Homo sapiens: one gene and its partner. The protein of the gene in region 1 interacts with the protein of each later gene in a biochemical or structural test. Each region holds a gene or a part of one and is shown in the gene's direction. Other genes may lie near its edges.

The links.
Region 2: the proteins of EPB41L3 (region 1) and SPTBN1 form a complex in vitro, tested with the Homo sapiens proteins (one study listed by BioGRID).

What each region holds. Positions count from the first base shown.
Region 1 is NC_000018.10:5,393,982-5,401,018, reverse strand, and holds part of EPB41L3 (band 4.1-like protein 3), read left to right. Parts: coding exon of another isoform or gene 1-50; intron 51-2,875; coding exon 2,876-2,998; intron 2,999-3,592; coding exon 3,593-3,961; intron 3,962-4,686; coding exon 4,687-4,818; intron 4,819-5,311; coding exon 5,312-5,410; intron 5,411-5,871; coding exon 5,872-5,952; intron 5,953-6,225; coding exon 6,226-6,336; 3' UTR 6,337-6,342; intron 6,343-7,037. UniProt on the Homo sapiens protein: Tumor suppressor that inhibits cell proliferation and promotes apoptosis. Modulates the activity of protein arginine N-methyltransferases, including PRMT3 and PRMT5.
Region 2 is NC_000002.12:54,669,322-54,671,978, forward strand, and holds the end of SPTBN1 (spectrin beta chain, non-erythrocytic 1), read left to right. Parts: 3' UTR 1-2,125; downstream 2,126-2,657. UniProt on the Homo sapiens protein: Fodrin, which seems to be involved in secretion, interacts with calmodulin in a calcium-dependent manner and is thus candidate for the calcium-dependent movement of the cytoskeleton at the membrane.

The sequences.
Region 1 (7,037 bases):
AAAAAGTTATATTTTTGCAGCAAGGAAGCGCTCCATTCCTTGAGTCTCAGGTAAAAACCAAACATAAAGGATTTTCCAGAAGAAATTGGTCTTCAGACTTCAGTGTCATTAAAATGCTCTTAGTTTTTATTTTCCCTTTAACATTTATCTTGTTTAAAACCAAGGTAGGTACATAATTTTGATTTAGATTCTGGGGAAGGGAAAATTGAATTTTCTTAATATTTTAGTTATCAGTTATGCATCATTTCTTCATGGCTTCTAATCCAAGCTGATTTTTCTCTGTATGTTGTCATTGACTTACTTTCTGATAATAATCTTGCTGAAATGTTGTTTTACTGCCTGTTTTTACCTGTAGAGTCGTGCTAATTTAGATGAAGTTGACTGATTTTGAAAGTTCTGAATTCTTATTGGTTTCCCCACTAGCCAAGTGTGATAAAGAAAATGCAGGAAGGAGACTCTGCTGACTCTGTGGTTACTTCTCGTCAAATAATTTTCCAGAAAACTGTCCCATCAACCCTAGAGGTTATTCTTTCAATTCATTTCATTTAATCTAGCAACAACATGTAGATCAATCTGTAGTGGTATTTTTAAAGGCACACGTATTTCTAGATTTAAGTTTTCAGGCTGTAAAAAACAGAAAAGTTTCTAGAAAACATTCTAGTTTAAAATGTAAACCAGGGCACTCACCTGCTCCTGGTTTGATATCTCTTCCCTCTGTAATCTGTGAAGCTATTAACCTACCTGGTCATATTGTATTATGCCTCCCTGAATACAAAAGTTTCTTAGCTTTCCTTTCTTTTGCCTTATTGGAACTAACACTAAAGAAAGTGAGAGAGAAACTCCTGAGACAGTGAACTTCAGTTGTAAATAAGATTGGAGCGGGCACAATGGCATGTGCCTGTAGTCCCAGCTCCTGGGGAGGCTGAGATGGGAGGATCACTTGAGCCCAGGGGTTCGAGGCCGACCTGGGCAACATAGGGAGACCCCATCTTTTAAAAAAAAAATGTAAGACTCGAACACTGTACAGATCACTGTAAGAGGCTCTAATAGTGTCCTATTTGTGGGAAATATTTCATTACAATGCCTTGAACACAGTCACACTCAATATTTATTGAATAATAAGTGCTATTATGGATTCATTTCCCTGTATAAAGAAATACAATTTACAAATATGGAAAATATTTACATAAATTTGTAGAATGTTGGGAAGCTCTCTGTGATAACAGTATATGAAGTATAGATTATATTTAACGAGGAAAACTTTTATCCCCACACATGTAAAGCTAAGTAACTTATAGAGCAACATCAATAATGTTATTTAATCTTGAAATATAAAATGATCCAAAATTTATCATAAGAGCAAATCTGTTCTTCAAAAAATTTACTGCAAAGTATGTTCCAGTTTAAAGAAGTTGCAACTCTACCTACCGAATGTATTCTGAGCTGAAGTTTATAGTTTATCATTTCAGAGGAGAAGAGATTGCAGCCATAATTATTAGATAATAACATGAGCACTGTATGGTCCCATCACAGACCTGCATGTAGCAGTTGCCCTGATTTTCTTAAAGGATTCTTATTTTAGAAATGAGATACCATCAGAATTTCTAATTTAGCTTTTATATTTCAAATATAGGGCACAGAGGATTGGGTTATTGTAGACAGAATACCAACTGAGGTAGTTGATGGTGATTTGAAAAAGATTGTGACTTACAAGGTGGTGACCGTGAGCAGTAAAACTGGTGATCTCCCAGCTGACATGTTAAAATCTGGCACTATTAAAATGCAAAGCTTCGAAGAATTGGCTCGAGAAATGCAACTGAAAGAAGACAGCAAACAGAAAATATACACTCTAGGAAAATCCTATGACACTGTCTCCGGGAGAATTGTTACTATGACTGGGAAAGCTAAAGAGGGTGAGAAAGTGGAGCAGCCCTCCACTACAGAAGCACTTCAGAAAATGGAGAAAGAAATACCAGAGTCCATGAAGATCATTCCCGGCCTGGCAGAATATGAGGTCCTGGAAACCCTCGCTGATGAGAAATCCAAGAGAGGACCAGAGGTCCAGACGACACAGCGGAAATTGTCCGAATCCCTGGCCCCCATCAAGGAGGCCGAGTCTCGCCGGCAGAGTCCTGAAGAAGATGACCTCAAGAAGGCTCCACAGCTGGAGAAGGATGTGGCCGTCCTCCCTGGCCTGGAAGGCAGACGCTTCAGCAAAACAGAGCAAGTGCCCGAGAGTGAGGTCTTAAAAGTGGGCCTCTTTGGTCCCCGAAGGAAGAGCCTGTCCGAATGGAGATATTCCCAGGAACCAGCCTTTACCGTTGCTACTGCCCATTACGTTACTGAGTCATCCGCCTCCCGAGTAGTGGTAACCAGTGTCACTCATTGGGGCCACAGTTTGCAATTCCAGCATGACAGTTTTTGAGGCAGTCCCCTTCCACCCCAAACCTTTCCGTTTCTCTTGCTGCTTGGCTTTATGTTGAGAGCAGCCAACCCAGCTTCTTAATTTTTTTTCATGGTTAAATCAATACCGCAGTGCAAAGTCAGCATTAAAACACTTTCCATTTTATTTCCAGCTCCCTGTTCCCAAGATGTGATAGTGCTGCTGTGGCTTGCAATGAAGGGGAAAAAATATATATATCTGCTTAAATCGGCGCCACCCTGATCCTAATAACCGTCTCTGCTTTACCAAACAAGAGCACCTGGTTTTCTATTTTATTTCCCATTCTTTTCGTTTCCAAACTCTGAGATTCCTTCGTTCTTCCTCCTCCCTGTCTCCTCTGCCTACGATTTTGTCTAACAAGCTGTGAATGTTTATGTGCCTGAGTTTGTGTCTCTCTTTTGTGCTTGACTCTGCCTCTCTTTGTTCACTCAGACTAAGCAGTCTTCTGGGGAAAAGCTCATGGATGGCTCTGAAATCTTCAGTTTATTAGAGTCTGCGCGAAAACCAACAGAATTCATAGGAGGGGTTACTTCTACTTCTCAAAGCTGGGTTCAGGTGGCCATTTGTTTTCGTCCTTGGTGTTTCTGAATGTGCCCATGTGCCTTTCCTTACCCTTTTTTTGGGCGTGAGTGTGTGGTTGCATCCAGCTGGCTTTGCCTTCAACATCTCAAAGGTGTCTTCACTTATTGTCCTTTGTGTCTGCTTGGCATATCTGTCACATGCCTTTAGTTGCATCTCAAGAATGTACTTCACTATTCGAAAGGCGATCATATTGAGAAATTTTAATAGAATTAAATATCTAAAAGCATTATGTCTCACCAGTTGAGTCTAAGAAAGCAGCCAAAACCAACGTGAATGCGCTGCAATGCTTTGGTTTTTGTTTTGTTAATTGCACTTTATCCTGCCTTCCGTTTGTTTTGCGGATGTCCTGAAGCAGCAGCGCAGGTTCAAGTGCATGCACCAGGGGCAGGGGCAGGCATCAGAGATTTCAGTGGGAGAAATGAAAGCTAATTTATATTTTTCGTCAGTGTTTCTGGTTATAAGCACTTGCTGCTGGCTTTAGACATCCTGGCGAGTGGCAGCTTTAGTTATTTTCTGACCTTTGGTTTATGGATGGTCACACTGATGCCACAATCTCTTCCCATGCAGAAAATGGAAACCAAGACGGAGTCCAGTGGAATAGAGACGGAACCCACCGTGCACCACCTGCCGCTTAGCACTGAGAAGGTGGTGCAGGAGACCGTGTTGGTGGAGGAGCGGCGTGTGGTGCACGCGAGTGGGGATGCTTCTTACTCGGCGGGAGACAGCGGGGATGCTGCAGCACAGCCCGCATTCACAGGCATTAAAGGGAAAGAGGGCTCTGCCTTGACGGAGGGGGCTAAAGAGGAAGGAGGGGAGGAGGTCGCTAAAGCTGTCCTGGAACAGGAAGAGACAGCCGCTGCTTCCCGTGAGCGACAAGAGGAGCAGAGTGCAGCCATCCACATTTCAGAAACTTTGGAACAAAAACCTCATTTTGAGGTAACTAGTAGTAAATGTTACTTTTATCACTAAAATAAAACTGATATAGGATGCCTGGAAATTTAGATCAGCATAAAGGTGGAGCTAAGTTTAATTTTCTGCCTCTCCCATGTATAGTGTATTTCTCCTCTCATTTCCTTCTTTCATACCTAGTAGGAGTCTCCACACTGATTTCCAGCTTTGGTGTCACATGCAAACATATCTCTTAATTATTAATAATATGGCACCAGGAAATGGTTTCTACTCTCACTGAAATTATTATAATTGGCAGTAAAATTGGGAAATGCAAAGTTGGCCAAGATATTAGAAAATGTGATACATTTATTTCTTATCAGTGCACTTTTCCAGAAGCACCAAAACCATGTTTACCCGGGTCCTAAATGCCAGAACTTTATTCTTTATCCTCTTTTATTGAGATTCCTGAAGTATTTGGGGAGTTAATGTCTCATTATTAGTTTCTTCTTTCTAAGAAGTTATTAAATAGAAAACTTTTTTTTATTGCCTTCAAAATGTTTTGCTTTACTTGGAGCATTTCATATAAAAGTGCTATGAGAGTCCAGGAGACTGACATGTGCATGTTGTATGCCTCATTCCCCAGCTTACTCTCTACATAAACATTTATAGCATACTAACCTGTGCTTATAACCACCAAGAGAGGAAAAGGAAGAAAACAATGTGTTCATGCAAACTATAACAGCCACTCTGCTTACTCCCCTTTGGCACAGTCCTCAACGGTGAAGACGGAAACCATCAGTTTTGGCAGTGTTTCACCGGGAGGAGTAAAGCTAGAAATTTCCACGAAGGAAGTGCCAGTAGTTCACACCGAAACCAAAACCATCACATATGAATCATCACAGGTGAGATATTCTGTGAAGACCAGAGCCCTGGCTGCTTATTTCACCCCTCTATGGCCTAGTGTGTTTACATAGAACTGCACGATATTTAATTCATGAGACTTAGAGGATCCAGCAGCCAGACCATTTCTATTAAAAGTGATGCAATAATGGTCATTTTATTAGTGATCAGGGAGCAGCAGATGACTTAACCAAGTCTTTATGTGTCTTGAAGTGTAGAAAAAGGCTCAGAAACCTGTTTCCCTAGCCACAGAGAAAGAAAAATATTCACTCACCCATCCACCACTCACATTTCTGAAACCTTAGTTTTTTTAATGACAGTTACCTGTGGTTGCACTTAGTACTTATTCTTGGGAGCAGCGCTCAGACTCTGAAGAGCATAATGATTGCATAATAGGAGATAGTGAAATTGTCGTAATGCCTTAAATAACGTAGCCAACTTCTGAAGAGCAGATGTGAGCACCTGGATGAGGGGTCTATGCCTCTGCTGCTTTAGGTCGATCCAGGCACAGATCTGGAGCCAGGCGTGCTGATGAGTGCACAGACGATCACATCTGAAACCACCAGTACCACCACCACTACGCACATCACCAAAGTAAGTGGAGTGAGAACCGAGAAGAGGATTCCTTGAGAGCGAGCTGGAGGAAGGTGCTTGTTCAGAACTCCTCACAGGTTGGGCTGCACAAGCACAAGGTGGCTTGAAGCTCAGGACGCCGGGATAGCTGCAAGGGGAGCTTTTACAGCCCCTAGATTTACGATGCACTTGTCCTCACGTGCGAGTTCCCCTTTAGGAATATACATTCTGATATCCTAAGCTTAATGCTTACTCCAGTGCTTGGCATGTGGTAGTGTTCCAGAAACATGGGCCATCCAGACCCAAGGGCCTCCATTCCGTCCTCACCTCTGGAATTAAAAATGTGAAATAAGTGCCATAGAACTCTAATTTCAATTCTCGAAGAGTGAATGATGTCAGCATCTTCGGCCATTTCCCCCTACTGAACCATGATGGTTTCTCCCAGTGAGTAAATTCATAAAGCTTCTCTACGTGTCTTGCAGACTGTGAAAGGGGGCATTTCAGAGACAAGAATTGAGAAGCGAATAGTCATCACGGGGGATGCAGACATTGACCATGACCAGGTAGTGTGTGTGAGACGGTAAATACCCTGGCAGAGAAACAAAGAAAAACCTGTTGGTCCTACAGTTTCAATGCTATTCCTCTAGTCCAGCATGTATTCCGAAGAAAATTCCGAATTAACTTTCCAATATATGATTTATGATTCCTTTTGTAATCATTGTACCTCATTTGTAAATTGTGGATATAGATCTAGCTCATAAGTCTCCACCTCACCACTGATCATGCATGTTCCACCTCCTTTTTGTTTCTGCCCTTCTGTGATTTCCCGGGGATAGGCGCTGGCTCAGGCAATTAAAGAGGCCAAAGAGCAGCACCCTGACATGTCAGTGACCAAAGTAGTGGTCCATAAAGAGACAGAGATCACACCAGAAGATGGAGAGGATTGACCAGAGGTAAGAGGTGATGCCGATTCTCTAGGCTTGCCTAGGCTGGCATGAGGCATGGGGCACTTCCCTCTCATCCTTCACCTGATCCCTCCTTTCCTCTGTTCTCTCACTGGCATTTGTTGGGCTGGTTACCAAGAGGATGGAGAATTGGTTTATGGGTTTGTCTCACATTTGGAGCTTCCATTCTTGTGGAGTTTTTGCATGCACTGCCAGTTAGAGGATAAAGGAAGAGCAGAGTCTATGCTTCTATGCTTGTGTGGTCTTCCTGGTGTTCCCTTTTATTCCATGGCCTGCACTCTTTGATTATCCAAATTTGTAATGGCAAATTTGATTTTACTTGCCATGTGGCCTAATTGGAACAAAGGCAGTTTTGCTCTGAGAGGCTCAATTTGTGTGTTCCAAATACTAGGGAAATAATATATACCCCTTTCTCCTTCTGATGGCAACATTATCCCGTCGTAAGCTTTCTCTTCAACTGTGTTTGATTGTAACCTGTTTATGCTTTTGTCTTTAGTTTTGTTTTTTTAATTTGAAAGCTGAGCACTCACTTTCTTTTTGGATGTCTTATATTTCCTGTATTCTTTGGGATGATTTTTCTCCCTAGCGTAGCACTGTCTCAGAAGGAGGCAAAAAAAATGCAGTCTTGTGGTCCTGTAGAAAGCACATACCTTTCCAGTGACTGTTTGGCCAGCATCATGAGC
Region 2 (2,657 bases), on another chromosome or scaffold:
AAACCCTTTAAATCATTGGTAAGTGTACAAGTGGTGGAACTGAAGCATTTACTGGACAAAGTAATGTTACTCTAATGGTTACTTGCTCGTGCGTTGCCACACTGTGTTATAATTTGCTTCATTTCCTTGCTATTTGATACATAGTGTGCATTTCTCTGTCACTGTAACTATTGTAATGACAAATTTTCATCTTACTGCACAATCAAAATGACATTGATAGGAATGAACTCCAGAGGCTGGGCCTGAACAGGGAGGTGGTCGCTCAGGCCTGGTGCTCAGTCGTACGACCTGTACCTCTCAACTTTTGCCCTATCTGTTAAATATATGCTATGTCATTAAATGCTTTTAAATCTAGCACGGTGACTAGTTGTTGTTCTTCCTCTGCTGCGTGTGCATGCCCAGTAGGGAAACTGCAAAGGGAGAAATGACAAACAAGAAACATTTTACAACCAGTCTGGGCTCACTTTTGCATTTTTTATGCATGTCTGGTGCACAAGCTTTGAAAACTACAGCAAACAGTAATAAATGTGACTGTTTTGTAGTTATACATTCAGGCTTTATCTTTTATTTATGAAAAAGTTACCAGAGCACTTGTGAAACCTGAACTCTGAGATAGGGGTTGGCAAATTTGTTCTGTAAAGGGACAGAGATAGTAAATATTTTAGGCTTTGTAGGCCGTAACTGTCTCTGTTGCTCAATTCTGCTGTTGCGTAATACAAAGGCAGCCATTGACGGTATGTGAATGCCTGGGCATGGCTGTGTTCCAGTAAAACTATTTAAGGACATAAATTTGAATTTCATATAACTTTGACATGCCATACAATATTTTGATTTTCTTAATGATTTCAAAATGTAAAGTCTATTTTATACAGATCAGACCAAAAAGAAGAAAAAAAAAAAACAGGCAAGAGGTTAGGTTTGGCCCATGGGCCATAGTTTGCTGACTTCAGCATAGAGTCGTGGGTTATTTACAAGTGACATACTTTTCCTGGGTTATCTGGGTATGTTGACTCCATGCCACTTGCATAAAGCAGCAATGGATATTAGTATTATGGATGTCCAGTAAGTTATTCCACAAAGACCATGCCTAAGGTGGCATCAGCCCTGGGCTCCACAGCTGCGTGGCATCAAAGCTTTCTCTTAACTCTCTTACCTCTAGGCAAACTGAGACCTCACCATCCTCTCCCCTGCTTCCCACGACAGTCCTTTGCCCTTGCCATGCTCAGGGTTGGAATCAAGTTGTTCTATTCTCAACAGACCAAAATGTTTAGTTAAGGCAAAGTATCTTGGAAACAATTGTGATTAATTACAGTCTTGTACTCTTGACAAAGCTGTGCAGATGGCAATAAGTTCATACCAGCAATCCTGGAGTCCCATAATAAATACGTACATGTGGAACATCGTGCACATAATTTCAACAGTTCGCAGATCTGTAGTTATGAAGCCAGGGTTTGGTGGTATTTGCTCTCTCTTGGTGCATTTGATAAGGATCCACTGAGGCCTGAATGTGGAAGATGATGGGCAGCGAGAGGAGCGTCAGAAGACCCCAGTCAAGACGTGTTCGCCATCAGAGGTTACAGGCCGCACAGCCTGATGAGCTTCAAGCCTGGCAGGGTAAATAGTTTTTGGGTTTTTTGTTTTTTTTTTATTCTTCCACTATCATGTTTTTTGAGGATTTTGCATATTTCTTGTTGCCATAATGCTGTGCTATTTTACCCTGATTTTCAGTGATACAATATGGGTGACAATACTGGCCCCTCCATAAATCTGAAGAGTAAGAAGTAGTGAAAATAAGGCTTAGGATATGAAATGGCGTTGTCACTTGAATCAAGGCCACTTTTTGTCCTACTTGAGCATCTCAAGTTGGGATGCATCTTCTGATGGCACTTCCGGAACTGGCTGTGGTTTTTTTGGGTGTACCGAGAGTGCCAGTGACTGTGCTTCTTACAATTCCTGGCATCTTGAGTAGGTGAAACACTGTATCAGACTGGGTGATGGGCACATTGTCATTTCACCAAGTTCCTGGAACTGTTAGAATTGCTTGTGTATGGGGATCCTATGTTAGTTCCCCTGGATACATTGTTTTATCAGTCGGAATTCTTAAATAAAGACATACTTCCCTTCATGTAGTGGTGCAGTCCATGTAGAAAAGGCAGGATCAATGCTGGAGTCTTTCCCATTATTTGCATTACTTTCCTATAATCAGCGTTATTTATGAGTTGGTTCCTATCCTCTAAAGATGAACAATTTTTTAAATATTATGAATTTATGGGCTTAAATATATTTGAGTTTTCTGGTGAAATCCTCGTTTTTTGGTGAATATGTTTTATAATTTTGAATTGACCTTTCTAAACATGGTCCATAACACAAAAACATATTTTAACAAAGAAGAAAAAAGACTTCTTTCCATCAAAGCTCAATAGAGATTTCTGTCTATTGAAGATCATGGTGAAATATTTCATTTTCCACTAGAATAGTTTAAAATTATTCATTTGCTTTATTCCATGTTATAAAAACTCAGAATAGCAATACTAATACTACCACCACCAATAACTGAGAACAGTTTTTTTTTTTTTTTAACTCTTTATTTTGCAATACTTGTATACTGACATGCAGTTGTAAGAAATAATACAGTGCTGTTTACGCAGTTTCCCCCA